Homo sapiens: one gene and its partners. The protein of the gene in region 7 purifies or fractionates together with the protein of the main gene of each other region. This does not show direct contact. Each region holds a gene or a part of one and is shown on either strand. Other genes may lie near its edges. The genes, in order: CUX1, LLGL2, PHLDB3, BLTP3A, ACOX1, F8A1 and RAB30.

Region 1 (4,298 bases), on a different chromosome or scaffold from region 7:
GTGGTCCCTCTGTGTGATCAGATGGGATTTTTTTTGGCCAAGGAAGCCTGCAGGGGTGCCTCTCAGCTCCCCTTGGCAGCAAAAGCTGGATGTGGACTCGGCTGCCGGTCAGCTTGGGGCAAGTAGTTAACGTCCCCAAGCCTTGGTGTCCTTCCCTGTCAATTGGGGATTTTACCATCCACTTCCCAGCGCCAAGTGAGGGGTCGAAAGGGCAGCATGCAGGTGAAAGGCTGAGCCTAGAACCTGGCTGCAGTCGGGGCTCGGCAAATGGGATCGGGGCTGCAATGTTCACCAGCCGCACCTTGGAAGTCTGGGAGCAGAGGATGCCTTACGCTCTGCTCTTGGGTGAATTGAAATGGGTGAGGGTCACAGGCTGCGGGATAGATACTTGGTCCTCAGCAAGGAGAAGAGATGGGAGAACCAAAGCCCCCAGAGCAGATCCCTTACCTTCTCCCCGAAGATTCTCTGGCAGATGCCGTTCTTGGCCAGCTTTTCCTTAACCTGCCGGGTGAGCTCGATGGTGTCCACCTCCTGGTACATGTAGACCTCGTACTGCTCGGGGGTCAGCGGGGGGACCGAGGGCTTGGTGGGCTTGGACATGGGCACGATCGGGGAGGATGGCAGGGGGCTGTTCTGTGGTGTCTCGCTGCGGCTGGCCCCGGTCAGACTCAGCTCTGAGCTCTGGGAGTATGGGGACTCAGCGCTGGGCCACTCCTTCCAGTACTCTGACGACGAGGGTCCCTGGAGCTGACTGCGCTCGGCCCGAGGCTGGCTGCCACCTCCGCTGCCACCGCTGCCCTTCTCTTTCCCGCCGCCCGTTTCTTCGGCCTTGGCCTCCTCGGAGGAGGCGGCATTTCTTCTCTCCGGCTGCACCGCGCTCCACCAGTGGTCCTTCCAGGCACCGCTGCGGCCCACCTCATTTTTCACCTGTCTCAGGACCCCTTGTGCACAATCGGCTGCTCCCTGGGGGTCCAGCCCGGGGGCGTCCTGGGCCTCCTTTTTGAGGGCCGGGGGGTTCGGCAGAGCAGAGGCACCGGCCTCAGGAGCTGCGGAGGGCTTCTTCAGGGAGATGGCGAGAGGTGGGTAGCTGGACACGGTGGGCATGGGCGAGGTGGACAGAAGCTTGGGGGTGAGGATGGTGATGTCACTCTGGGACAGTGGTGCCTGCTTTAAGGCAGGGTCGAGGGCAGCCTGCTGGGCCTCCATCTCCCGGCGGGCTTGCTGCAGGATGGAGCGGATGGCGTCATCAGAGTTCCCGCTGCCGGATGCGGAGGAAGGCTGGGCCGGCTCTGCTGCATGGAGAAACAGGGGTGAGAGTGTGGCAGGGCGGCCCCCTTCAGCTGGGGACATGCTTCTCATCCTAACTTGACCTACTGCAAAGTGTGGGTTATTTGGGAGAACCACACTGTGTATTTCCCCAGCATGGCCCCTGTCAGTGAAACATTCAGGCATCTTGTCTCAACCAAGGACCAGGGCCTGACACTACAGCTTGATGACCTGGTGGCCTTTGGTATACACACAGATGTAGAGGGTAATAAAGGGGGTGTCAGTGAAAGTGCTCCCCGACCTGCCCTCCTGGGGCTCCTTTCCCCGAGAATTTTTTTTTTTTTTTTTTTTTTTTTTTTTAGCGACAGGATCTCGCTGTTGTCCAGGCTGGAGCGCAGTGGCACGATCACGGCTCACTGTACCCACCCTCCACCTCCCTGGCTCAAGCAATCCTCCCAGCTCAGCCTCCCAAGTAGCTGGGACCACAGGTGCATGCCACCATGCCTGGCTAGTGTTTTAAGAGACAAGGTCTCTCACTGTGTTGCATAGGCTGGTCTTAAACTCCTGAACTCAAGTCATCCTCCCCCATCAGCTTCCCAAAATGCCAGGATTGCAGGTGTGAGCCACCGCGCCTGACCTCTGATAATTTTTATACTTGGTATTCATTTTCCTGTGCTATATTCTGAAATGCAAGTGGTTCTGTCAAAGTTAAGGAGCGTAATTTCTGTGAATAATTACAACTAGGGGCCAGGCGCGGTGGCTCACACCTGTAATCCCAGCACCGTGGGAGGCCGAGGTGGGAGGATCACTGGAGGTCAGGAGTTCGAGACCAGCCTGGCCGACATGGTAAAACCCCGTCTCTACTAAAAACACAAATATCATGGGCATGGTGGCACATGTCTATAGTCCCAGCTACTCGGGAGACTGAGGCAGGAGAATCGCTTAAACCCGGGAGGCAGAGGTTGCAGTGAGCTGAGATCGTGCCACTGCACTCCAGCACAGGCAACAGAGAGAGACTGCATCTCAAAAAAAAAGGTAACTATTAGGCAAATACAGATCACACAGACCTGCTTCTCTCTACGTGCCTAAATGCTTGAGAACAGGCATTCATTATTGTTTAAAAAAAAAATAGTTAATTACTGCTGACCAGAGCACTCATGACAATTCTCTTAATTAAGTTTGAAGACAGTGGATGAAGAAATGGAAGCTGTACCAGTTTTCTGCACTTGGAGCTCCCTCTTGGCTTGCTCTAGGATGGACTTGATGGCTTCATCAGAGCCAGTCTCCGAGGCTCGGATCCGGGTGGTGATGTTACCTGTGGGGAGAAGTTGCGCCAATGACATCAAACCCAAACCCCGGACAAAAATCAGCGCTGCGCGAAGACGTCATTCTGATATATAGCCCCGGGTGGGGGCTGGTGACACAAGGAGGCAGATGTGGCCTCCCAGTGGCCTGTGTTTGCTGTGAGTGCAACTTCACAGCGACACCGGGCAGGAGGGATTTCCTGCTCATTTGACCTTACGGTCAATGTTACTCTGCCAAAGCCGGACACCACCCGTGGGTTAGTACCCGGGAGAACCGATCATTTAATCCATATATATAAAAGGCGAGTGATTAAAAGGCAATGTTTCTCATGAGTCACTTAGAAGCAACTGCTGTGGCTTGGGACTGACTCTCCTCGGGGTTAGATGTTTATTGGATGCTGGGGTCCCACACAGGATAAACGGAAAAGGAGGGCAGAGGGTTTGAGGCTGATTGTCTATCAATCATTCAGAGGCACAGGGTGAAGAAAGGCTTAACTTAAAAAATTGTTTGCACCTATTATCACATAATATCTTTTTAAAATTTACATACGAGGAAAGGAGCCTGCAGAAATTCCTAAGTGGGGAGGATGGATTCTTTCGGCCACATGGTGATGTTTTGTGCAGGCACACGTGCCGACGAAATGAGGCTACTATGGCCCAGGGGCTGGCCCCAGCTCTTTCGGGAAGCCACCCGGATAGTTTAATTTCTTACTACCTTCCTAAATAGGAACCACTGCATTCAAAACAAGTATACCACCATTTAAAAACAAGTATGCCACCGGGACGATGTGGGATGCGTCCGTTCCATAGGACCTTGAGTGTGTTTCCGAGTTAAAAATACGAGGAAGCAGCAGTATTTAATTTGACGGGTCACCTGACTTTTCTCAGAGCAACCGCTGTTATTTTTTCAACTGCGTCTGAGAAAAACGGGGGACCGGGTAATTAGGATCTGAAGTGGGCTGGGATTCAGACTCGGGGGGCTTAGCTTAGCAATGCCTCTTCTCACCCCCGCCTGTGCTTGGGAGAGGGCAGGCAGCTCGGGAGGAAGGGGCTGGGTGTGCTTGAACCCGTGCCTTGTTTTATACTTACTAGCTGTTTTTCCATCAGGTTCCAGGCCAGAATCACACTGCACAGTTTTAACCCAAATACACAGCTAAGGACATGCTGCTTCCCTAGGTGACTGACTGCAAAGAAAACGCCTGCCTGCAACATACCTTCAGACCCATTTCTTCGTTTCGGTACTTCCTGAAATAGTCTGTTCAGGCTCTGGCCTGGATTCTCTGTTGAAAAACAAGTGTGGTAAGAACAAAACAATCAGGGGAATGGTGGTGTTGACGATATGGGCTGTGTGACATGAAATCTGAGCCGCCTGTCACTAAAGAAAGGGCTCAGGGCTGCCTGTGCAACTCGGGAGTTTCTAGAATCTTCTGAGAGGCCCTTCCCTGGCTGACCGGCCCGCAGAGGCCGTGGCTCTGCTGCAAAAGGAGATGGGGGAAATCTAAGTAGCGACCTACGGCATTGAGGCCAGGGAGGTCCATGGGAGGGAGGACTGCCTTGAAGGAGGATCACCCGCCAGCCCCCAGAACAAAGCTCGCATTAATCATCCAAAGACATTCAATTTCGGTTAACATCCTCATAAAACACTGCATTTTCTTGGTGCAAATTGATGCTGTTCAAAACATCTCCCTGCTCTGTTTGAGTCTAAATTTCAGGGTGTTTCAAACATGT
Region 2 (3,305 bases), on a different chromosome or scaffold from region 7:
TGTAATCCCAGCACTTTGGGAGGCCGAGGCGGGCAGATCACAAGGTCAGGAGATCGAGACCATCCTGGCTAACACGGTGAAACCCCGTCTCTACAAACAAATGCAAAAAAATTAGTTAGGCGTGGTGGCGGGCACCTGTAGTCCCAGCTACTCAGGAGGCTGAGGCAGGAGAATGGCGTGAACCCAGGAGGCGGAGCTTGCAGTGAGCCGAGATTGTGCCACTGCCCTCCAGCCTGGGCGACAGAGCGAGATTCCGTCTCAAAAAAAAAAAAAAAAACCAGCATGGTGGTGGACGCCTGTAATCCCAGCTCTACTCGGGAGGCTGAGGCAGAAGAATTGCCTGAGGCGGAGGTTGCAGTGAGCCGAGATCACACCACTGTACTCCAGCCTGGGCGACAGAGCAAGACTCCATCTCGGAGGAAAAAAAAAAAAATCCAGATAGGGAAGTCGGTGACCTCGGCATCCTCCCAGGCCATGTCTGTGCATCTGAGAGCCAAGGGTTTGTCAGGACACCGGGAGGCATGTGGGGAGGGGAGGGCCCAGCAGCAGCAGCACAGGGCAGGAGAACTGGTTTGGCCATGGGCATGAACAACCACCCCACGCCCCCAGGTGTTCACGCTGCCCAAGGTGAGTGCCAAGCTGAAGTTGAAGCTGACGGCCCTGGAGGGCTCAAGAGTGCGGCGGGTCAGCGTGGCCCACTTCGGCAGTCGTCGAGCCGAGGACTACGGGGAGCACCACCTGGCAGTCCTTACCAACCTGGGCGACATCCAGGTGGTCTCGCTGCCCCTGCTCAAGCCCCAGGTGCGCTACAGCTGCATCCGCCGGGAGGACGTCAGTGGCATCGCCTCCTGCGTCTTCACCAAATATGGCCAAGGTGTTTGAGCCGGGCTGGGTGGGTGTCGGGGCCCCGGGCACTGCACGGACGGGAAGGGTGGCCAGGGGTGTTGTGGCCACGGCCAGACTGGATGGGCCTTAAGCGGAGAACTGCGAGGGAGCACTAGCCCCTACTCCCCCAGGTGGGGAGGCAGCCTTGGCAGCCGCCAGGCCAGGCCGCTAGCATTGCCCCCACTCCCCAGGCTTCTACCTGATCTCACCCTCGGAGTTTGAGCGCTTCTCTCTCTCCACCAAGTGGCTGGTGGAGCCCCGGTGTCTGGTGGATTCAGCAGAAACCAAGAACCACCGCCCTGGTAACGGTGCGGGCCCCAAGAAGGCCCCGAGCCGAGCCAGGTGAGTGAAAGGGCCAGAGGCCTCTCCCGCCCCTCCCGCCCCTCCCTGCCCTCTCTGAGATACCGAGGCTCCCACTGCTGCCTGGCTGGAGGCACCTCCCCACGAGCTCAGCCCACCCTCCCAGGCTCCGGCTCTCCTTGCCTCTTTGCGTGCCCCTTGCCCCTGTGCAAGCTGGCAGTCCAGGGCAGGACTCAGTTTACCTCCCAGGCTCTCCGGCTCAGGACAGGCTGCGCCATTGACTTGTTCTTCATGGGACCAGGGCTCTCAGAGCCGGGCAGGGAGCCCGGGGGCCCTGGTCCTCACTGTCTCTTCCCCCACAGGAACTCAGGGACTCAGAGTGATGGCGAGGGTAAGACAGGCCTCCTGGGCTCATGCACACCTGGGCCACACCCGGCCCAGACCTGGGGCTGGACGGGAGGGAAGGGTCCCGAGTGAGCAGGTAGTGTTTGGGCTGGGAATAGAGACGGCATTCCTTCCAGCCCTGGGCCCTGGGCTTCCACATCCTGACCTCAGTAAGGAGAGAGAGAGCCAGGCCGAGGAGGGCCCAGGCGGGGCGCCCTGACCCGGCCTCTACCTTCCAGAGAAGCAGCCCGGCCTGGTGATGGAGCGCGCTCTGCTCAGTGATGAGAGTGAGTTGGGTGGGAGAGGGTGGGGCTGGCAGGAGGGGTGGGGAAGGGGGGTCAGGGTCAAGGGAGGCTGGGCAGGCCACTGCCCTGAGGCGGGGTACAGATCCATGGGCACCCACGGAGAAAGGGGGTGGAAGGGCTGTGGCTAGCCGCCCCAAGGGCCTCAGTGGGCCTCTGTTCCCACCCGGCCTGCAGGAGTCCTGAAGGAAATCCAGAGCACACTGGAGGGAGACCGCGGGTGAGGCACCGCCCAGGCCAGCTGGGGTGGGCCCGAGGCTCTGCCAGAGGGCTCAGGGGAGCGCTGAGAGTGGAGGTCCCTGAGGCCATGACTCCCCTGTCTTTGCCTGTGCAGGAGCGGCAACTGGCGTTCACATCGAGCCGCCGTGGGGTGCAGCCTCAGCAATGGCGGAGGTGGGGGCTCTGGGCTTGAGTGCAGCTGCCAACCGTGCTGGGAAGGGCTGGGAGGAAGAGCCCCGGCCCCACTCCCCTGGGTCCCACGGGGCTGACACGTGCCCTGATGACCAGGAAAGCACCATGTCTGGGCTCAGCGTGGGCGGCTGGGGCACCCCGTCCTGCCCAGGGTGATCTTGAGCTGTCCCTCTGTGTCCTTCAGCAGAGTGAGTGGCTGAGCGTCCAGGCTGCGCGATGAGCACACACTACTACTGATGGCCTTTCGGGGGTCCCTGCCCCAACCGGAGAGGCCGGTGCACAGGGCCCCGCCAGGGGCTGGGGGCATCCCGGCTTCCACAATGCAGCTGCTCTGGGCCTCGGGAGAGGAGAGACCCCAGTCCCCTGGGCTGCCCTTCCCGGGCCTCGTCTGTCTGGGTCCTTTGGTCAATGTTGCACAGTTTTTATTGCTCCCATCCCTTTTTGTAGTGGGCTGGGTTTTAAGTTATAAATGTTAACTGCCTCTGGGTGAAAAAGTTTTTAATAAACACCTATTACCTCTTGACTGGTCCACTACTTTAATATTTTAATTGTGTAGAAATTTTCCATGTGAATGGAAAGTGGGAGCCGGTACCCTGCCTGTCCCCCGAGGCTCCAGCCCTGGCCTGGGCCGGTGTCAGGAGAATCCACTTGGGGAGCCGTGTGAATCAAACTGCTTCGTTTTGTCTGAGCCCGGCGGTGCCTTCCCTCTGTGGGAACACATGGCAAGCACGAACCATCTTGAGTCTGCCTGACTTTTTCCCTGGGTCCTGGCCGCCCCTGGCTGGCCTTTCCCTACTGTCAGAAGAAGGACACCCACAATATCTCAGACCTGATGGCTTCCTCCAGACACCAGGGAGGACTGTGGGGTGCTGCTGAAGCGGGGCTGGTACCCAAGGAGAAAGGCCTTCCCCAGGGGAGGGGCTGGGTTATTTAGATTGGACATGGGCTGGATCTTTATTGACTCGTCTTCGTTGAGCACCTACTGTATGGCCAGTGCGTGGGGTTCTCCGGTGTCTGAGACAA
Region 3 (3,870 bases), on a different chromosome or scaffold from region 7:
CTCGGGAGGCTGAGGCAGAAGAATCGTTTGAACCTGAGAGGTGGAGGTTGCAGTGAGCCGAGATTGCACCACTGCACTCCAGCCTGGGCGACAGACTGAGACTCAGTCTCAAAAAAAAAGAAAAGCCCAGAGGAAGCATCTGACCTGCCAGGACAATCAGGGAGGGCTTCCTGGAGAAAGAGACTTAATATAGGAACTAAAAGCTAAATGATGAGCAGGGCTTTTGTGGAATGGGGAGAGGTGCCTAAGCAAAGGGAACAGAACGTACAAAGGCCCAGAGGTGAAAGGGAAGCGAGTTTTATTTTTTGTTTTTTTCCACTTTCATGGAATGAGACATGCTCTATGGTGCTGGGAACAGCAGTGACCAGGACAATGCTGGCTCTGCCTCATGGAGCTCCCAGTGCATAAAGGACACAGATCCATCGCCCATGATGACCCAGGGTCCTCAGGGATGGGATGACAGAGCTCAAAAGGGGGTGCCTGACCCAGCCAGGAAAGTCAGTGAGGGCTTCCTGAAGGAGGTGCCAACTGAACTAAGGCTGGAAGAATGAGGTGCAGCTGATTAAGGGAAGGAGGGGGGCCAGGCGTGGTGGCTCACACCTGTAATCTCAGCACCTTGGGAGGCTAAGGTGAGTGGATCGCTTAAGTCCAGGAGTTGGAGACCAGCCTGGGCAACACAGTGAGACCCCATCTCTATAAAAATAAATAGATAAAAGAAAAAAAGGGAAGAAAAGGGCAGAGGGAACAACGTAGGCAAAGGCCTAAAGGGGGGAAGCCTAGGAGTTCCTAGAAATTTCCAGCAGCCGGTCAGGCCAGAAAGGGTGGAAACAGAAGGGCCTACAAACTAAAAAAGCAAAACTGCCAAACACTAAGGGGGACATGCCTCTCACCCTCTTCTCCCAGCTATGACCTTAAGAGTTGAAGGCCTCCATTCCTAGAGAGCCGGCTGTGGGACGCGTGGCTCCCAGAGGTACCGATAACTCAGATGTCCTGCCTAGGGGTCAAGGGGCCCCGGATGCCTGGGCTGGAAACCACAGCAGCAATTCCTGTTTTTCCTCCGTATTTAATTCGGTATCACAGGAGCACCAATAAATAGTTTCTTCCCGCCCCTGCAATCTTCCTCCTGCCCCGGGCAGGGCCTTAGGGGCCGGCGATCCCGTCGGGGGCAAGGCACCTGCAACCCAGAACGCAGCAGCTCAGGCCAGCTGAACTGCCGCGCCTGCGGAATTCCCGGGAGAGTTCCAAAGCGGTGCGTCCAAGTTTTCCGGCAGTGGGCGGGGCCTAGGAACGCCCCCGCGCCCCGCGCCGGCGGAGCCTCGAAGGGACTTCCCCCCAAGAGGGCGGGGCCACTCAGGGGGCGTGGTTTTCGTCAGCGGCGGTCACGATGACGTCCATCCAAATGCGCATGGCTTCGGGGCTCGGAGCCACCATGTAGAAAAGGCGTTCGTAGGTTTTGACGCAGAAGGTCAGGCGGGGGTTGGGGCTCTGGAATAAGCAGAAAGTGAGGGTAATTCAGACAAAAGACACCGGCCACAGTCTGGGTGCGAACCCAGCCTTGCTACTTATAGTCTGTGTGGCACTGGACAAGGTACTTAAGTATCTGAATGTCAGTTTCCCTGTCTTCCCAAATGATGCCACCTACCTCACTGGGTTATAAGGATTAAATGAATTAACACAAGGAAGTGCTTAAAATTATCATATGTAGAGCGCTATTGATAAATTAGGGGCAAGATAAATTTTTTTTCTTTTTTTTTTGAAACTGAGTCTGGCTCTGTCGCCAGGCTGGAGTGCAGTGGCGCAATCTTGGCTCACTGCAACCTCCACCTCTCGAGTTCAAGCGATTCTCCTGCCTCAGCCTCCCGAGTAGCTGGGACTACAGGCGTGTGCCACCACGCCCAGCTAATTTTTGTATTTTTAGTACAGACCAGGGTTTCACAGTGTTTGTCAGGATGGTCTCGATCTCTTGACCTCGTGATCCGCCTGCTTCGGCCTCCCAGAGTGCTGGGCTTACAGGCGTGAGCCACTGTGCCAGGCCGAGAAATTTAAAAGTAGGACTTATGACGCCTTCTCTCAGCCTAACTTCTCCTATATTAGAAATACAGGCATTCAAATTCCACCTCCCCAAAATCTAGGTCCCCTTGTACCTGGGAAAAGTTAGTGTCTAGAATCCGTTATTTGAGTACCCACTTGCCAATCCCAAATTGAGTAAATCCCTTATGTCCATAATCTGTTTTTAGCCCTCTCAATAACCCTGATGGAATGGGTTGATGCGTACCCATTCTACACGTGAGAAAACTCAGGCCGGCCGGGCTGGGTGGCTCACGCCTGCAATCCCAGCACTTTGGGAGGTTGAAGCGGATTGATTGCTTGAACTCAGGAGTTCAAGACCAGCCTGGGCAACAGAGGGAGACCCCATCTCTACAAAAAAATACCAGAAAAACAAAACAAAACAAATTAGCTGGGTGTGGTGGCACACACATATAGTCCTAGCTACTCAGGAGGCTGAGGCAGGAGGATTGCTTGAGCCCGAGAGATAGAGGCTGCAGTGAGCTATGATTGTACCACTGCACTCCAGCCTGGTCTATGGAGCAAGAAAAAAAAAAAGAAAAAGAAACAAAGAAAACTAAGGCTAAAGGCTAAAGAAAGGAAGTCACTTTCCTGATGTCACATAGCTGAGATTCCAACCTAATTGCTAAAAAGCCACAGTTTGGTTATTCTCCACAGAGCTTTCTAAATATTGTATCAGTTGCCAACATTTAAATTTTTGGCACTGTGCTTTATACAAGTTCCAATTCCTGAGTTCTCTGGGAAAAAATAAATATAAGACAACACCATGGGACCCACTCCCACTTGGCAACTGTTGGCAGGAGCCAACTAACAACCATCTCCTTTATTTATTTTTCATTTAAAAAATAAAAAAAAAAAAACAGAGATGGGATCTTGCTATGTTGACCATGCTGGTCTCAAACTCCTGGCCTCCTGCAGTCCTCCCATCTTGGTCTCCCAAAATGTTGGGATTATAGGCATGAGCCACGACGCCTGGCAGATCATCTCCTTTAGATGCTCCCAGGCTGCCCGACCCTTGCTGTGACCTCTCCATTCATTTATTCCCAGTTGGACATCAGAGTCTGCCATATTTTGGCTCTAAAACTTTTGCTCCAAGAAAATTAACAGTGACAGGCCAGGTGCGGTGGCTCACGCCTGTAATCCGAGCACTTTGGGGGGCCAAGGTGGGCAGATCATGAGGTCAGGAGTTCGAGACCAGCCTGGCCAACACAGTGACACCCCATCTCAACTAAAAATACAAAAGTTAGCCAGCTGTGGTGGCACGCCTGTAATCCCAACTACTTGGGAGGCTGAGGCAGGAGAATCGCTTGAACCCGGGAGGCAGAGGTTGCAGTGAGCCAAGATGGCGCCACCGCACTCCAGCCTGGGCAACAGAGCCAGACTCCATCTAAAAAAAAAAAAAGAGCCACGTGTGGTGCGGTGGTTCACGCCTGTAATCCCAGAACTTTGAGAGGCTGAGGTGGGCAGATCATGAGGTCAGGAGTTTGAGACCAACCTGGCCAACACAGTGAAACCCCGTCTCTACTAAAAATACAAAAATTAGCCGGGCACGGTGCCTGTAATCCCAGCTACTCAGGAGGCTGAGGCAGGAGAATTGCTTGAACCAGGGAGGCGGAGGTTGCAGTGAGCCGAGATGGCGCCACTGTACTCAGGCCTGGGCGACAGAATGAGACTCTGTCTTAAAAAAAAAAAAAAAGAAGAAAATTAACAGTGGCTGAAGGCCAGAGTCTGGGCTCTTAATTTTTAGTCCCTGCAGTCAGGTGACCTGTTTGTTTTCTCTGCGACAAACACGTACTCCTATGA
Region 4 (3,500 bases), on a different chromosome or scaffold from region 7:
CAGCACTTCTAGAAGCCGCTGCTAGGTGACAGGAACCCAAAACACCCACATGCAGGCAGCACACGCAACCTTTTTGCCCCCCAACCCCGGGTTTTACCAGTTTCACAAGTATAGCCCCCAAGGGTTATGGGCAGCTACTGTTCTGTTAGGTCCTCACCTGCTGTTCAAAAACCTCTCCTGTGGGCACCAAAAACACCTGTTCTTTTGGGGGCTGTCTCTTCTCACTTTTAAGTACTTCAGCTGATGGTTTGTCCTGAGCAGCAGCTGGAGAAAACAAGTAAAGGTTCTAAGTGACAAACTGCTGCCAACTCCCAAACAGTTCCTAGGTGTCACCTATTCACTTTTAGGAGAAAAGGCAGAGAAACCAACAGGCTGACAAGCCTGACTCACCGCCTATGTGGAACACACCATCATCACTCCTCTTCAGCACAACATGTTCCATGGCCAGAGTGATGGGGATGGGGCCTGGAGATGTTGGATAGATGGGGGGGATATCATCCTGCAGGAAAGAGAGAAACCACATGATGCCCCCCACCAGCTCAGAGCAATTTAACACAACCCATGCTCCCATCATTCAGCTTGAAGCAGCTTTATGCCAGTTTGTCCATACATTCTTGGAAGGTATAAGAGGCATGGCAGATTCTCCCATCTAGAGATGGTGAAACTGAGAATCAGATAACCTGATGGCTTGCACATGGTAATGCTGCATGCCAAAGACAGGGTTAGGGTTACAGACAAGGTCTCCTCACCTGAACCCTGGCTTTTCTGACAGCAACACACATTTATATACCACTATAACACTGACAGAGAATGCAAATATGTATTAATATTTCCTCACTTGATCCTCACCATATTTTACAGTGAAAAGGGAAGAGGTTAACAGGTGTCACTGCTTCCTTGCTTGACAAAGTCCAGGGCAAAAACCAATGTGCCCTTACATTGGCAAAAACCAAAGGTTCCTCACACCTTTAGGGTGATGCTGGAGTTCAGAAGCTCAATCTGCATGGGGACTACCACCGGGATCTCCTCATCCTCCAAGAAGGGCCCCAGGCCACTGAGCACTGAAGTGAGCAGCTCGAGGTCACAGCCATGAAGCAATAAATGTAGGAAGCCATTTTGTGAGGCCAGGGGGGAATGAACAGCTGCTCCAGGCCCCACCTCAAAGCGAAGGCCCACAGCTGGCCTGATGTGGCCAGTCTTCAAAGTTGAGGATTCCTGAAAGCATGTACCTTTGTGAAGAAAGACAAGGAAGACAACTAATTAACGGCCAGGGAGTCTTCTAGGCACCTTATATACCAATATTCATAATAACCCTATGTCAAAGGAATATCATCATTCTCATCTGACTGAACGAAGTCACAGAGAATAACTTGCCCAAAATTACATAATTAGTAAGTAGCAAGGAGAGGATCTGAACCCAGGCAGTCTGATTGCCAAGTCCATGGGCTTAGATACTTTGCTATAATGCCTTGCAAGGTGGAAGAGAGATTAAGGATTGGCCTTGTTATGAATGTGAGACAGTGGGCTAATGGCCAAGGAAAAGCTCTTAAAACACAGGACTCCCAAACTCTACTAAATTTGAATGTCTCCTCCTTTCTCTAAGTCTTGGTTTTCTCATCTGTCACTCATAAAGCAAAGCAGGATCTATGCTAATCTCTCCAAAACTCCAAACAGAACACTCTCAGGTGTAGCCAAGGATCCTGTGGAACAACTTACACATTTATGGAACTGCAAATTGGTACAAACATTTTGCATAACAATTTGGTATTATCTAGTAAAGGTGAAGTTGTGCCTACCCTAATGATCTAGAAATTATATTGTCAGAAATACAACCCCAGGGAAACTCTCAAACATATATTCCAAGAGACATGTACAAGGATGTTCACAGCAACCCTATTTGAAACTGGAAAAACAAACAAACAAACAAAAACTAGAAATAACCCAAATGGCTGTCCAGAATAGAATAAAGAAGTAAATAGTATAATGGGTACAGGGATATTTTGGGGGTCATGGAAATGTTCTAAAATTGGGTTGTGGTGATGGTTACACAATTATAAAATTGTACACTTAAAATGAGTGAATTTTATGTTATGCAAATTATACTTCAATAAAGCTGTTTTCAAAAAGCAAAAAGTGCCGTGCACAGTGGCTCATGCCTGTAATCCTAAGACTTTGGGAGGCTGAGGCGGGTGGATCACTTGAGTTCAGGAGTTCAAGACCATCCTGAGCAACATGGTGAAACCCTGTCTAAAAATACAAAAAAATTAGTCAGGCGTGGTGGCAGGCACCTGTAGTCCTGGCTACTGAGGAGGCTGAGGCATGAGAATCACTTGAACCCGGGAGGCGGAGGTTGCAGTGGGCTGAGATTGCAACCACTGCACTCCGGCCTGGGCAACCCAGCAAGACTCTGCCTCAAAAAAAAAAAAAAAAAAAAAAAAAAAAGTGGTGTATGTATACAATAACATTATATAGTAATGAAAAATGAACAAATTATAGCTAATTCAACAACCTAGATGAATTTAAAGAATATCATGTTACTTGAAAGAAGCAAATCACAAAAATAGTACAATCTATTATTCCATTTAGAAAAATGTGAAAAAAGCTAAAAATACATTAATATAAACACGTGTACAAATTATAAAGTAAAGCAAGATAACAATGAATACAAATTCAGGATAGTGATTACCTATGACAGGTGAGGGACAGAAGGAGGTTCAGGAGAGGGACTCCCAGAGACTTAAAAGGTAATGGTACTGTTGTATTAATTAAACTAGGTGGTGGGGCCAGGCATGGTGGCTCAGGCCTGTAATTCCAGCACTTTGGGAGGCTGACATGGACAGATCGCTTGAGGCCAGGAGTTTGAGACCAGCCTGGTCAACATGGTGAAACCCCATCTCTACTAAAAATACAAAAATAAGCTGGGCGTGGTGGTGTGTGCCTGTATTCCCAGCTACTCAGGAGGATGAGCCAGGAGAATTGCTTGAAGGAGGTGAAGGTTGCAGCACGTCGAATTCGTGCCACTGCACTCCAGCCTGGGCAACAGAGCAAGACTGTGTCTCAAAAAAAAATTAAAAAACAATAAAACAAACTAGGTGGTGAGTAAATGGGTTCATTGTATTGTTATTATTTTATGCCTTACATATATTTTATAAGTGTTCTTCAGTATCTACTCAATATTTTAATGTTTTTTAAGAGACAGGGTCTTGCTCTATTGCCCAGGCTGGAGTGCAGTGGTGCAATTATAGCTCACTGTAGTCTCAAACTCCTAGACTCACATGATCCACTCACCTCAGCCTCCCAAGCAGCTAGAACTATAGGCACGCACCGCCACACCGAGCTAATTTTTTTTTTTTTTTTTTTAAACAGAGTCTTGCTCTGTCACCCAGGCTGTAGTACAAGGGCGCGATCTCGGCTCACTGCAACCTCCGCCTCCCCGGTTCAAGCAATTCTCCTGCCTCAGCCTCCCAAGTAGCTGGGATTACAGGTGCCTGCCACCACAC
Region 5 (4,298 bases), on a different chromosome or scaffold from region 7:
TATATTAAAGTAGGCCATGTGCAGTGGCTCATGCCTGTAATCCCAGCACTTTGGGAGGCTGAAGCGGGCGGATCACCTGAGGTCAGGAGTTCAAGACCAGCCTGACCAACATGGAGAAACCCCGTCTCTACTAAAAATACAAAAGTAGCCGGGCGTGGTGGCGCATGCCTGTAATCCCAGCTACTCAGGAGGCCGAGGGAGGAGAATCGCTTGAATGCGGGAGGCGGAAGTTGCGGTGAGCCGAGATCACGCCACTGCACTCCAGCCTGAGCAACAAGAGCAAAACTCCGTCTCAAAAAAAAAAAAAAAGAAATATGTTAAAGTAGCAAAATAAATTAAAGTGACCACGTTGATGGAGCTGTGGAAATACAGGTACAGAGCTTGCTCAATATATTGTCAACTGGTTCTGTGTTTCAGGAAAAGCCTCAAACTATGCAGCAAAAGCTCTAAAATGCTCATGTCCCTCAATATAGTAATTCATTTCTGAGAGGTATTCCAGAAGTATGACCCCAAAGAATACAGCGTCTTATTTATTTATTTATTTATTTATTTTTTGAGACGGAGTCTCACTGTTGTTACCCAGGCTAGAGCGCAATGGCGCAATCTCAGCTCACCACAACTTCCACCTCCCAGGTTCAAAAGCTTCTCCTGCCTCAGCCTCCCTAGTAGCTGGGATTACAGGCACGCACCATCACACCCAGGTAATTTTGTATTTTTAGTACGGACGGGGTTTCTCCATGTTGGTCAGGCTGGTCTCGAACTCCCGACCTCAGGTGATCCACCCACGCTGGCCTCCCAAAGTGCTGGGATTACAGGCGTGAGCCACCGTGCCTGGCCAGAACACAGCTTTCATAAAGTTTATATTATTATCACTAATATTGGTGAAATTTAGCCCAAATCCCCAGGGAAGCAAGTCTCATGAGAAGTCCAACAGGGAAGAGAATCACTTGGGCAGAGGGAAGAGGAGACTGTTAAGCCTAGGGAGAGAGGGCAACGGAGTGCGGTAAAGACTGATGACTTAAAAATCAAGTTTACTACCTCTTTCCAGTTTCAAAGAAAGGTGCATTATTTCATATTTAAGTGTTAATGATGGCAATTTGCCAGGATACTGCATCAGCTTCAAGGATAACTATGTATCATACAATCTCTATATTCCTAAATAGATGGTAATACGAAACAAGGCAATGTGACCCCAGTCCATGGGTGAGGAATAAAGAAAGAAAGGAACGAAAGGAATGGAGGAAGGGAAGAAGACAGAAAGAGAGCGAGAAAGAGGCCGGGTGCAGTGGCTTACACTTCTAATCCCAGCACTTTGGGAGGCCGAGGTGGGCAGATCGCCTGAGGTCAGGAGTTCAAGACCAGCCTGGCCAACATGGTGAAACCCTGTCTCTACTAAAAATATAAATATTAGCCAGGTATGGTGGTGCACACCTGTGATCCCAGCTACTCAGGAGGCTGAGGCAGGAGAATCACTTCAACCAGGGGGAGGTGGAGGTTGCAGTGAGCCGAGATTGTACCATTGCACCACTCCAGCTTGGGCAACATGAGACTCCTTCAAAAAAAAAAAAAAAAAGAGGAAGGAAGGAAGGAAGTGAGCAAGCAAGCAAACAAGGAAAACAAAGCAAGAAGAATCTCCAGAAATGGCCACATCTTGAAATGATTACATATCTGTGAAGAGCAAACAAACGACCTGTTTTGTGGCCTAAAGAAACATATGGTCAGGATGATAACATGGACCCAGTTCCCCAGGCTGTTCCTTTGATCCCAGAACTCCAGGGAGGTGAGCCTATCACCCAGGTTCAGGCCTCTGCCTTTGATTATGGCTCCCAGACCCACAGGGCAGGTGTATATCCGAGTTTCTTCGTGTCCTTAGAGGAAAGAAGACACACTCTAGAAAGAAGGATAATGCTGGTGACTGAGACTTTCTGTAGGTGACTGAATTTTAGGATTTGGAAGGAACATGGAGTGAACCTGAATACTTCTGAGCCCCTTCACTTCTCAGCAGCTACCCAGAAGTGAAAGAATCCCAAACCCAAAGTTACAGCTACTTCTGTGAGACCGCGTTAGATAATCACTGTTCACTGTTGATCCATTTTCCAAAGTCTCAGAATTTAAATAGTTAGATCTCATTCTATATAAGCTGCTCTATTGCCGATCTCCTGGACGTTGACTTTTTGTGTATTCCATATAAGATAAAACCGTCACGTGATGCAAATTAACCAACCTGACTTATTTCCAAGGAAAAGATCAGTCATCAACCAAGAACAGCAATATGAATTAGCAAAATTCCAGCAAGAAAAAAGACTAATCTTAGGACACTGTTCTCTAAACCACAGAGATTAAGACAACGTTGGTTTAAATACAAGAAAATACCCAAAACTAGCTGGGCATGATGGCTCACGCCTATAATCCCAGCACTTTGGGAGGCCGAGGCGGGCAGATCACCTAAGGTCGGGAGTTCGAGACCAGCCTGACCAACATGGAGAAACCCCGTCTCTACTGAAAATACAAAATTAGCCGGGCATGGTGGCACACGCCTCTAATCCCAGCTACTAGGGAGGGAGAGGCAGGAGAATCACTTGAACCTGGGAGGCGGAGGTTGCGGGGAGCCGAGATCGCGCCATTGCACTCCAGCCTGGGCAACAAGAGCAAAACTCTGTCTCAAAAAAAAAAAAAAAAATACCCAAAACTAAAAGCAATAAGGGAACGAAAACTCTAACAAATGCAAACTTGCCCACAGCCATATAGGATCTCTGTCCAACTTCTGTTTGCCTCAAACCAGTATAGTTCAAGTCTTCCTTTCTTCCTCTCTCCTTTCAAAAATTAGGGCAGGCCGGGCGTGGTGACTCACACCTGTAATCCCAGCACTTTGGGAGGCTGAGACAGGTGGATCACCTGAGGTAAGGAGTTTGAGACCAGCCTGGCCAAAATGGCCAAACCCCATCTCTACTAAAAATAACAAAATTAGCCGGGCATGGTGGCAGGTGCCTGTAATCCCAGCTACTCAGGAGGCTGAGGCAGGAGAATCCCTTGAACCCAGGAGGTGGAGGTTGCAGTGAGCTGAGATCACTCCACTGCACTTCAGCCTGGGGCACAGGATGAGACTCTGACTCAAAAAAAAAAAAAAAAATTAGGGCAAATATATATTTGTGATATTACTTTATAAATGAGGCAGAAGCATTAGACCAACAAGAGGTAAGAGGTATACTTAACAAATCCATTAGCCTCAGACTATTTCACATCTTATGCCTCCTATGAACAGCATGACTGTTAAGTCGAATAAATTCTATAATGATGAATACTGAAACAGAGTTCTGTACCACAAAGCTACTTCAAAATTACAACACACACACACACCACGCATGCATGTACACAAACACACAGATACTCCAAGCGAGGAGGACTACATAAAGAATCTTATCTCTCAGGCCGGGTGCAGTGGCTCATGCCTTGTAATCCCAGGACTTTGGGAGGGCAGATCACGAGGTCAGGAGATCAAGACCATCCTGGCTTACACGGTGAAACCCCGTCTCTACTAAAATACAAAAAATTAGCCGGGCGTGGTGGCGGGCACCTGTAGTCCCAGCTACTGAGGAGCTGAGGCAGGAGAATGGCGTGAACCCAGGAGGCGGAGCTTGCACCGAGCCGAGATGGCACAACTGCACTCCAGCCTGGGCGACAGAGTGAGACTCTGTCTCCAAAAAAAAAAAAAAAAAGGAAGGATCTGTCAGCCAGGCGCGGTGGCTCACGCCTGTAGCCTGTAATCCCAGCACTTTGGGAAGCCAAGGTGGACAGATCACCTGAGGTCAGGAGTTAAAGACCAGCCTGGCCAACATGGAGAAACCACGTCTCTACTAAAAATACAAAATCAGCCGGGCGTGGTGGTGAGCACCTGTAATTCCAGCTACTCGGGAGGCTCGGGCAGGAGAGTCACTTGAACCCAGAGGCGGAGGTTGCAGTGAGCTGAGATCATGCCATTGCACTCCAGCCTGGGCAAAAAAAGCAAAACTCTGTCTCAAAAAAAAAAAAAAAAAAAAGAATCTTATCTTCCTTTACAAACCTTTCTTTCAGGCTTATAATTTCAGTACTGACCATCTTGAAGTTGAAGTCTTGAGTGTTTAGTAAAGTGTCTGGAACATCAAACCATGACCAGAAAGCTGCAGTACCCATGGAGATGACAATAAATAACATTTTCCTTAAACCAATTCACACACTGAAATCAGCAATCAAACACAAAATGATGTTTCCCTGATATCTGCATCCCTTTTTCTTTCCCTTTCTTTACTCCTGCCATTTTG
Region 6 (4,146 bases), on a different chromosome or scaffold from region 7:
GGAGGCACTCAACTCACAGTGACAACCCTCCACACCTCTCCCCTGCAAAAAGACGCAAAACAAAAACACCTACTCCAAACTGTGTCCTTACATCTCAGCCCCGAAGATCAGGATTGTGTGCAACTTCGGCCCAAAGGATGCATTTCCCCAGGGTTGAAAGTTTGAGAAAGAGGCTATATTCTGAAGAGTTCTTGTTGTCACCATCAAAAGGATTAAAAAGACGCAATAAATAAGAAAACAGCGTAGTTGGGGGGCATGCTCCATTTGAGCCAGAAAGCCTTGGAAACTTAAGTGTTCTCAAACGGAACGCCATCCTGCTTTGGGGGAACACGGAGGCTGCCTTGCAGTCACGTGATCGCACAACACCAAAGGGCCACGCACTCTGATTTCACCTACTTAACTAAAAGTTGCAGCAAAATCCCTATTACAGGCCAGGCGTGGTGGCTCATGCCTGTAATCCCAGCACTTTGGGAGGCCGAGGAGGGTGGATCATTTGAGGTCAGGAGTTGGAGACCAGCTTGGCCAACATGGTGAGACCCCATCTCTATTAAAAATACAAAAATTAGCCCAGCGTGGTGGTGCACGCCTGTAATCCCAGGCACCCTGGAGGTTGAGGTAGGAGAATCGCTTGAACCCAGGAGGCGGAGGTTGCAGTGAGCCGAGATCACGCCACTGCGCTCCTGCCTGGGCGACAGAGTGAGACTCCATCTCGGGGGGAAAAAAAAAAAAAAAAAAAAAAAAAATCCCTATTACAAATAAAAGCTGTTGTGATCCAGACTGCATATACCTCTGCGAATGGAACCAGAACCGTGAATTCCAATGCAAATCGATGCATCGGCACCAGACCCGCTGCACTGGATGTATCTGCATTGCAGTCACCCGAGTACGGAGCACATCATAGATGATCTCTGCAGGTTCGTTGCCCACATAGGAGGCATAGCGCAAATTTCAAAGGAACGAATACATCCTGGAGCCCAAACAGCTATCTGGTTCTGCTGCTGGCCTCCTGACAAGTAGGTAAGAGAGTCACATTTTATAGACGACGGACACCAAAACCACACATGAGGAGTACAAGAGTAGCTTTATCATGGATTTAGGGCTGTGGTTACAAGGAAGCTGTAAGGAATAAAATGACTCCCATGAAGACGTACCGTGCGGACGAGTGGAAGGAGAAATTTGGCCATTACAAAGACACAGGAATATGTTAAGAAGTGAGGGGCAGGATGAAATCATCTAGGGTAGGTATTTAGAGGGAGGGCGCCGTGCAAAATAAAATCCTCACTATGAAACAAAGGCGGAGGCAGGAGGCTGCGTTAGGTGGAAGCAGCGGAGGAAGGAGACGAAAGGGATTGTCATTTTCATGTCGTGGCTTTTTAGAAGACAGCCATGTCCTCTACTCTGATTCTATCAAAATGTGTTCTCGGGGTGCTGGTAACGTTCAGCCAACGAAATAATTCCTATGGCGGCAGTAGGAATAACAAAACGCAGAAGCGGGAACGATGTCTTTTTATTCCTCCCCAGACGCAAACGTGGATGCATGAGGTTTGGTAACAGGCAAAGTCATCTGGTTAACGTGACTGATGCAAAAAGTCCAGGCCTGGGCAAAAAGAAGTCACTGGGTGAATGGGATGGATCAGACTCCCTGTCCTGAGGGGGAGATGGTTTCTTGCAGAACGAGGTGAAGGAGGTGGTTCTGCTCAGCAGTCAACAGTGGCCACATCTCCACCTGCAGCGACTTGATGGCTTCCGTGTCCTTTTCGTGGGTAGCCATGACCAAAGACTGGAGCAGCAGAAAGAGCTCCTCGGGAAGCTGGCCGCTGCTCTCCTGCCCGTGGCTGTCAAAAGCCTCCCAGGAGTACTTCTCCAGGGTCTGGGCGTGCTCCGGCAGCAGCTTGGCGGGCGGTGGTTGCAGGAGGAGCAGCAGCAGCACGCGGGACACCTCGCAGCGGACCAGCACGTCCGAGAAGGCGCCCAGGGCGGCGGGAGAGGGCGCCGCCGAGCCGGAGTTCGGAGGAAGCAGCGCGGCCGGTAGGGCGGGCGTCGCCCCGGGCCCGGGCTGGGGTGCCGGCGGCGGGGGCGGCGGCAGTGACTGCACCGGGTGGCTGCCGTGCTCCCGCGCCAGGCGCTGCATGCGCGTGAAGACCGCCAGGGCGCCGGTGTAGTCGCGCGCCAGCAGCTGGCAGGAGGCGGCCTCGCCAAGCGCCTGCAGCGCGGCCAGGGGCAGCTGGGGCAGCTGGAGCTGGGCGGCGCGCTGGAAGTGACCGGCGGCGGCGGCCGGCTGGCCCAGGTCGCGCAGGGCGGCGGCCAGCTCGAGGCAGAGGGCGGCGGCGGCGGCCGGCTGGCCCAGCTCGAGGTGCAGACGCACCGCGGCGCCCAGGGCGCTGGCGGCGGCCTGCAGCGGCTCCCCGTAGGCGGCGGGGCAGACCAGGCGCTGGCGCGCGTCGCGCTCCTGCCGCAGGAAGAGGCGGGCGGCCTCGGTGAGGGCCAGCGCCTCCCCGGGCCCGTGGAAGAGCGCCTGCTGGCAGCGCGCCACCGCCAGCTGGCACCAGGCCGCGTAGGGCAGACACTCCTGGGCGCGCAGCTCCCGGCCCAGCTGTCCGAACTGCTCGCCGGCCTCCGCCACGTTCGGCTTCCGCAGGAACCGCTTCTTCAGCTTGTTCGATACCAGCCGGTAGCGGGCCAGGAAGTCCCCGGCCTCGGGTCCCGGGCCGGCGCCGCCGCCGCCCAGGCCTGCAGCCGCTGCCGCCATGCTCGCCGCCCCAAGCACTTCCCGACGCGCCGCCGCAGCTGGCGGGCGGGCCGGGGCGGGGCGACGTGCCCTGCGTCCCCCTCGGCGGGCTGCCGCCGTGCCCGCGCCGGCTCCCCAGCCCGAGCCTGCCCCTTGCCCTGATGAGGTGCAAAGAGCGGGATCGGAGGCGGGGCCTGGCCGGGCTGTGAGCGGCGTATGCAAATCGAGGGTCTCGGGGATGCGGATCCAAGACCCTGGGAAGGTACGCGGGGCCTGGCGGGGCACCAGCTGCTGCTAGCTCGGCTGCAATGCAAGTGGTCTAGGTTGCTAAAGGCATCCCACAGCCTCTCCATCTGAACATGACCCAAACGAAACTCGTGACCCTAATTCCATGTCTGCGCATTTCTAGACTGTTGTCCCCCCCCCCCCCCGCCCCGACTACTCAGTCCTCCGTCTTCCGGTCCAGGGCCCCTTGCCAAGCACCGGGTCCACCTCTCCGTCCCCACCCCGGTTGCCTTAGAAGTCCGTCCTGTCGCAACACTGCAGTCATGGTCTTGAGGCCCACCCGCCCCAACGAACACCATCATGCTGAGGACTTTCCCGGGCAGGCCCTGACTTGCTCAGAACCAGCGGGGGTGTCCCCTTCCCACCCAGGGCCACTCCCCTGCACTGTCACCCGGAGAGACTGCTCCTCTGTGCCATCCCTGGCTCCCACCCAACCCCAGACCCCCACCACCTCTCCATCCCTCCAGCTGTGGAGGTCTCACAACCCCCCAACCCATCTCACCGCCCCCCCACCCCCACCCCAAGGCAAAGTGACTGAAGCGGGCAGATGGCTTCCTTGAAACATTTTATTGACAGAATTAATGAAGGCCCAAGACTTTGGGGCCTGGGTTGTGGGGGGAGGGTGTTTAAGGCCGGGGGTTCAGGCCGGGGGATTTGGGGCCGGGTGGGTGGACGAGTGGACCTGTCAGGTCCCAGGGGCCGGGTGTCAGAAGCTAGTCCTCGCCAGGGGCCACTTGAGAGATGGTGGTCGTGTTGAAAAGGGTGCTCAGTAGCCTGTCGTTGTGAACCACCATGTCCAGCAGCAGGGGAGTGATGTTCCGCTCTCCGCTGTTCTGGGCCTCGTTGCCCGCCAGCTCCGGGACCTTGGCCGTCAGGTACTCAATAACCGCAGCGAGGTAGACCGGCGCCGTGCGACTCAGGCGCTGAGCGTAGTGGCCCTCCCGTAGACTGCGCTCCACCTGGCTCACTGAAAACGAAAGCTCCGCTCGGACGGTGCGAGAGCAGGTCCGCCCCCGGCCGCCAGCACCGGAGGACCCTCGGCGTCTCCTCCTCCTCGGCATGCTGGGCGTTGAGTGTGCTATCTCGGCTTGGCCCAGCTAGGCAAGATGGCTCTCAAGAGGACAGTTACCGCG
Region 7 (4,298 bases):
AGTGGTTTAGAAAAAGTATCTGTGTGTGTGCACACGTGTGTGTGTATGTGTGTAAAGACAAAAGCAAATTAATCCAGATAAAAGGTACATGGAATGTTTTTCGTTTGTTTTTTGTTTTTTTAGGTGGGATTTTTTTCTTTCTTTTCTTTTTTTTTTTTTTTTTTTTTTTAAAGATGGGGTCTTACAACGTTGCCCAGGCTGCTCTTGAATTCCTGGGCTCAAGCATTCTTCCTGTTCCTGAGTAGCTGGGACTACCAGTGTGCACCACAGTGCCTGGCTTCACTGTACTATTTTTGCAATTGCTCTAAAGGTTTGAAAGGTTTCGAATTAAGTTGGAAAAAGAATCAAATAAAACATAAACCACCTGGCACCCAGTAGATGCTATGACAGTTCACATTATGGCTCCAGTGAACAAAAGGTCTACAGAAAACTCTTCCCCCGTGCCTGAAAATAACATGAACCATATGAAAGTAAATGCCACCAGACGGTCCTGGCTTCATGAAGCTTATATTTTCAATCAGAAGGCAAGGCAAGAACAGGAAGCAGCTACAGAAACAGTATAGTTTTGGTTTCAGAAAGCCTACCTAGGGTCTATATCTGCATTTTTCAGAGTGGGAGGGGAGGGCTAGGTCATGTCGAAAAACAAAACAAGTTTACTTAACCTTACTGAAAATTGGTTCCTCATTTGTATGTAAAAAATTGAGCTAAATTCTACTGCCTAGAATTGAGATAATAAGACAGCATCCACAATACAACTTTGTAGAGCATCTTTTATTGAAGACTCTCATTAAAAGATATTAGTTTCCTACAATTAAAGTGGTGAACAAGGAAAGCACTCAGATGGTTCCACCTTTGTTTTTTTATCAGAATACCCAGCACAGGACCTTGCATTTAGCACACAAACACTGGCTGAAGAAGGAACAATTAGACAACATGAGACAGAATTCCTTTCAAAAAGTCATTCAGCCTACAAAGGCCACTGGAGTTAAAGGAAAGACTAGTATGAACTTGCTCAGTTTGAGAGTTTGAGACATGAACCCTTTGACAACAGAATATATTTATGTGCACATAAATTTGCCAAAGTCCTTTTATACACAACATCTCCTTTGAGCCCCACAATAATCCCCATTTTATAGATAAAGAAACTGAGGCTCAGCCAGGCATGGTGGCTCACACCTGTAATCCCAGCACTTTGAGAGGCTGAAGTGGGCGGATCGCCTGAGGTCAGGAGTTTGAGACCAGCCTGGCCAACAAGGCGGAACCCCATCTCTACTAAAAATACAAAAAAATTAGCCAGGCATGGTGGTGGGCACCTGTAATCCCAGCTGCTCGGTAGGCTGAGGCAAGAGAATCGCTTGAACCCAGGAGTTGGAGGTTGCAGTGAGCCAAGATTGCGCCACTGCACTCCAGCCTGGGTGACAGAGTGGGACTCCGTCTCAAAAAAAAAAAAAAAAAAGATAAGTTGTCCACGTAGCAAACAGCTCAAATTTTTTGTTTGCTTCACCCAGCCACAGTGGCTAAAGAGTGAAAATAATTCATGGCTGCGATCCTCACAATCTCTTCCCCAGGGTTCCTGTTAGGGCAAAGTGACTCACTGATGGCCACTCCTAAGCTCACACCTGCTTCTCTAAAGAAAAATGCCAAAAATCTGCCCTTTGATTGCTTCTACTGAAATTCAGAAAAATGAACACTCGGGCCTTTTAACCACCTGCTTCAGATATTTTAAAAGTGGAGCTTAAATTCTCTTTGCAATGTGGTTGCATGACTGAGATGTAGAGGAAGTGAGCAGAAGATATTTTCATTTCAAGGTTGATGACGTCCACATTTTAGTGAAGTTAACTAACCGTAACTAGAAAATAAAATTTTTCTGCAGAATTCTCTGGGGAAAACTCTTGACTGCTTTATTGTTTCAGTTCACTTTTTAAACACTGTACTGTGTTGCAGGCAGGGATAAAGTATTTCTCTCTTCCAGGGATTTCTACATTATTTACACATCAACTTTTATTACCACCATCACAAAAACCAGCAGGAACTCCGTAGTTCAATTTTTGCCCCCGTTCTGTTCACCCTTCGCAACTAGCTTCCCTTAGTAAAAGAGTTCAGCCCAAGTGGCTAATGGACTTGGCAAAGGTATGTAGAGTTAGCCCTCTCAACATTGCTGACAAGAATTTAAATCAGGGGGCAATGCTAGTGCCCTTGGACTCAGCATTTCTGCCCCCTGAAAGATATCTTACAGAAATATTCCCACAAATTCATAATAAAATGAGGTACTCAAAGGCTCACTGTAGCACAGTTCCCAACAACCATTAAAACAGGTAAGTTGGAGCAATATGCAAATACATGGGGGAAATGCCCAAAATATATTAAGTAAAAGAGAACAAGCAGAATTACATGTGCTATAATAATATTGCTAGTACACATATGGGGAAAAATGACAGAAGAATACACATCAAAATCTAACAGTTGATTATCTTTGTGGGTAGAATTAAAGAGGACTTTCCCTATACAGTCCATGTGTTTTTCTGTAATGAATTTTAATTAATCTTATGTTATTTCTTTCTTTTCTTTTTTTAAGACAAGGTCTCATGATCAGGGCTCACTGCAGCCTTGACCTCTGGGGCTTAAGGGATCCTCCTGCCTCAGCCGCACCCTTCCCCATAGCTGGGACACAGGTGTGCGCCACCACACCCAGCTAAAAAATACAAAAATATCTTCATATTTTTTGTAGAGACAGAGTTTCACCATGTTGCCCAGGCTGGTCTCAAAGTCCTGGACTCAAGCAATTCACCTGTCTCAGCCTCCCAAAGTGTTGGGATTACAAGCATAAGCCACTGCGCCCAGCCAATCTTATGTCAATTCTAGAATCAAAAAACAAATTTGAGATATATATTTAGGTACCTTTTCCCTTCGATTTGGGAACAGCTAATGTTCCTCCTGCATTGCTCCCTCTAGTAATGTCACACATAGAGTGCCAGCTGTAGAAGTTTCCAGTCACAGAATACAGGATTGTATTTAGAAAGGATATAAAACAACACTTACAATGTCCCAAAAAGTGGTATCCCAGCCCATAGGCTGATTAAATACTTGAAATGACCAGGAAAATCACTACCTCCTGAAGCAGCCCTTGATGTGTTCTAGCTTTGCTATGACATTCCTGAAGACATTCAGGAACGCCAGCTGATCATATACCAATATCTACAACGTGTCAGGTTAAACAAATGGAATCATTATCACATCCAAGAAAACTAACATTGTTACTGATTATCTAATATGTAGCTCCCATTCAAATTTCCCCGATTATCCTGAAAATGTCTTTTGTAGCTTTTTTTTTTAAGTCCAGGATCCAATCTAGGATTACATGTTCCATTTGGTTGTCATATCTCTTTAGTCTCCCTTAATATAGATTGTCGTCCCTCATACCTTCCATTTTTGTTGTCTTTCATGCGTGACATTTTTGAAGATCATAAGCCAGTTATTTTGCAGTATGTCCCACAATCTGGATTTGTCTGATTATTTATTTATGGTTAGATTTTTTTTTTCTTTTAATAGAGACAAGAGCTGGGCACAGTGGCTCACACTTTGGGAGGCTAAAATGGGAGGACCACTTGAGCCCAGGAGTTCAAGACTAGCCTGGGCAACATAGTGACAGTTTGTCTCTACAAAAAAAAAATTTAATTTAGTCAGGCATGGTGGTGCACACCTGTGGTCCCCACTGCTCAGGAGTCTGAGATGGGAGGATCCCTTGAGCCTAGGAGGTAGAGGTTGCAGTGAGCTGTGATCACACCACTGCACTCTAGCCTAGGCAACAGAGTGAGGCTCTGGAAAGAAAGAGAGAAAGGAAAGAGAGAAAAGGAAAGGAATGGAAAGGAAAGGAAAGGAGAAGACAGAGTCTCCCTATGTTGCCCAGGGTGGTCTTGAACTCCTGGGCTCAAGTAATCTTCCTGCCGTGGCCTCCCAAAGTGCTAGGATTCCAGATGTGAGCTACTATGCCCAGCCCCATGGTTAGATTTAAGTTAAGCATTTCTGGCAAAAATTCTACATCAGTGATGTTGTGTACTTCCCATTGAATCAGGTTGTGTAGTTACACTAAATTATCTTTTTCCTCATTTTGTCACTGTGGATACTAAACAAGCACCACCCAATAAATAAAATGTTTAAAAGGATAAATAATGTTAAAAACAGCTACCATGAGCACCAGCTATACCAAGCATAGTGTCAGACATTTAAAACACATGATCTCATCATGTGAACCTCCCAACAACCTTACAAAGAAACAGAGGCTCAAAGAGATTAAGTAA

Evidence for each region.
Region 1: the proteins of RAB30 (region 7) and CUX1 purify together in Homo sapiens (affinity purification with mass spectrometry; 2 studies listed by BioGRID and IntAct, with this or other methods). This does not show direct contact.
Region 2: the proteins of RAB30 (region 7) and LLGL2 purify together in Homo sapiens (affinity purification with mass spectrometry; 2 studies listed by BioGRID and IntAct, with this or other methods). This does not show direct contact.
Region 3: the proteins of RAB30 (region 7) and PHLDB3 purify together in Homo sapiens (affinity purification with mass spectrometry; 2 studies listed by BioGRID and IntAct, with this or other methods). This does not show direct contact.
Region 4: the proteins of RAB30 (region 7) and BLTP3A purify together in Homo sapiens (affinity purification with mass spectrometry; 2 studies listed by BioGRID and IntAct, with this or other methods). This does not show direct contact.
Region 5: the proteins of RAB30 (region 7) and ACOX1 purify together in Homo sapiens (affinity purification with mass spectrometry; 2 studies listed by BioGRID and IntAct, with this or other methods). This does not show direct contact.
Region 6: the proteins of RAB30 (region 7) and F8A1 purify together in Homo sapiens (affinity purification with mass spectrometry, with the first as the bait; 2 studies listed by BioGRID). This does not show direct contact.

Annotation. Positions count from the first base shown.
Region 1 is NC_000007.14:102,198,354-102,202,651, reverse strand, and holds part of CUX1 (Homeobox protein cut-like 1), read right to left. Parts: intron 3,851-4,298; coding exon 3,785-3,850; intron 2,582-3,784; coding exon 2,480-2,581; intron 1,293-2,479; coding exon 448-1,292; intron 1-447. UniProt on the Homo sapiens protein: May be involved in intra-Golgi retrograde transport.
Region 2 is NC_000017.11:75,572,405-75,575,709, forward strand, and holds the end of LLGL2 (LLGL scribble cell polarity complex component 2), read left to right. Parts: intron 1-609; coding exon 610-874; intron 875-1,076; coding exon 1,077-1,227; intron 1,228-1,547; coding exon 1,548-1,576; intron 1,577-1,706; coding exon of another isoform or gene 1,707-1,789; exon of another isoform or gene 1,790-1,802; intron 1,803-1,808; coding exon 1,809-1,856; intron 1,857-2,048; coding exon 2,049-2,091; intron 2,092-2,205; coding exon 2,206-2,264; intron 2,265-2,466; coding exon 2,467-2,474; coding exon of another isoform or gene 2,475-2,502; 3' UTR 2,503-2,805; downstream 2,806-3,305. UniProt on the Homo sapiens protein: Part of a complex with GPSM2/LGN, PRKCI/aPKC and PARD6B/Par-6, which may ensure the correct organization and orientation of bipolar spindles for normal cell division.
Region 3 is NC_000019.10:43,474,060-43,477,929, forward strand, and holds the end of PHLDB3 (pleckstrin homology-like domain family B member 3), read right to left. Parts: intron 1,486-3,870; coding exon 1,351-1,485; 3' UTR 1,044-1,350; downstream 1-1,043.
Region 4 is NC_000006.12:34,868,583-34,872,082, reverse strand, and holds part of BLTP3A (bridge-like lipid transfer protein family member 3A), read right to left. Parts: intron 1,230-3,500; coding exon 967-1,229; intron 500-966; coding exon 391-499; intron 265-390; coding exon 158-264; intron 1-157. UniProt on the Homo sapiens protein: Tube-forming lipid transport protein which probably mediates the transfer of lipids between membranes at organelle contact sites. May be involved in the retrograde traffic of vesicle clusters in the endocytic pathway to the Golgi complex.
Region 5 is NC_000017.11:75,968,629-75,972,926, forward strand, and holds part of ACOX1 (peroxisomal acyl-coenzyme A oxidase 1), read right to left. Parts: intron 1-4,298. UniProt on the Homo sapiens protein: Involved in the initial and rate-limiting step of peroxisomal beta-oxidation of straight-chain saturated and unsaturated very-long-chain fatty acids.
Region 6 is NC_000023.11:154,884,978-154,889,123, reverse strand, and holds F8A1 (40-kDa huntingtin-associated protein), read right to left. Parts: upstream 2,770-4,146; 5' UTR 2,750-2,769; coding exon 1,634-2,749; 3' UTR 1,063-1,633; downstream 1-1,062. Other genes in the region: H2AB1 (histone H2A-Bbd type 1), read right to left, coding at 3,727-4,074.
Region 7 is NC_000011.10:83,061,565-83,065,862, forward strand, and holds part of RAB30 (ras-related protein Rab-30), read right to left. Parts: intron 1-4,298. UniProt on the Homo sapiens protein: The small GTPases Rab are key regulators of intracellular membrane trafficking, from the formation of transport vesicles to their fusion with membranes.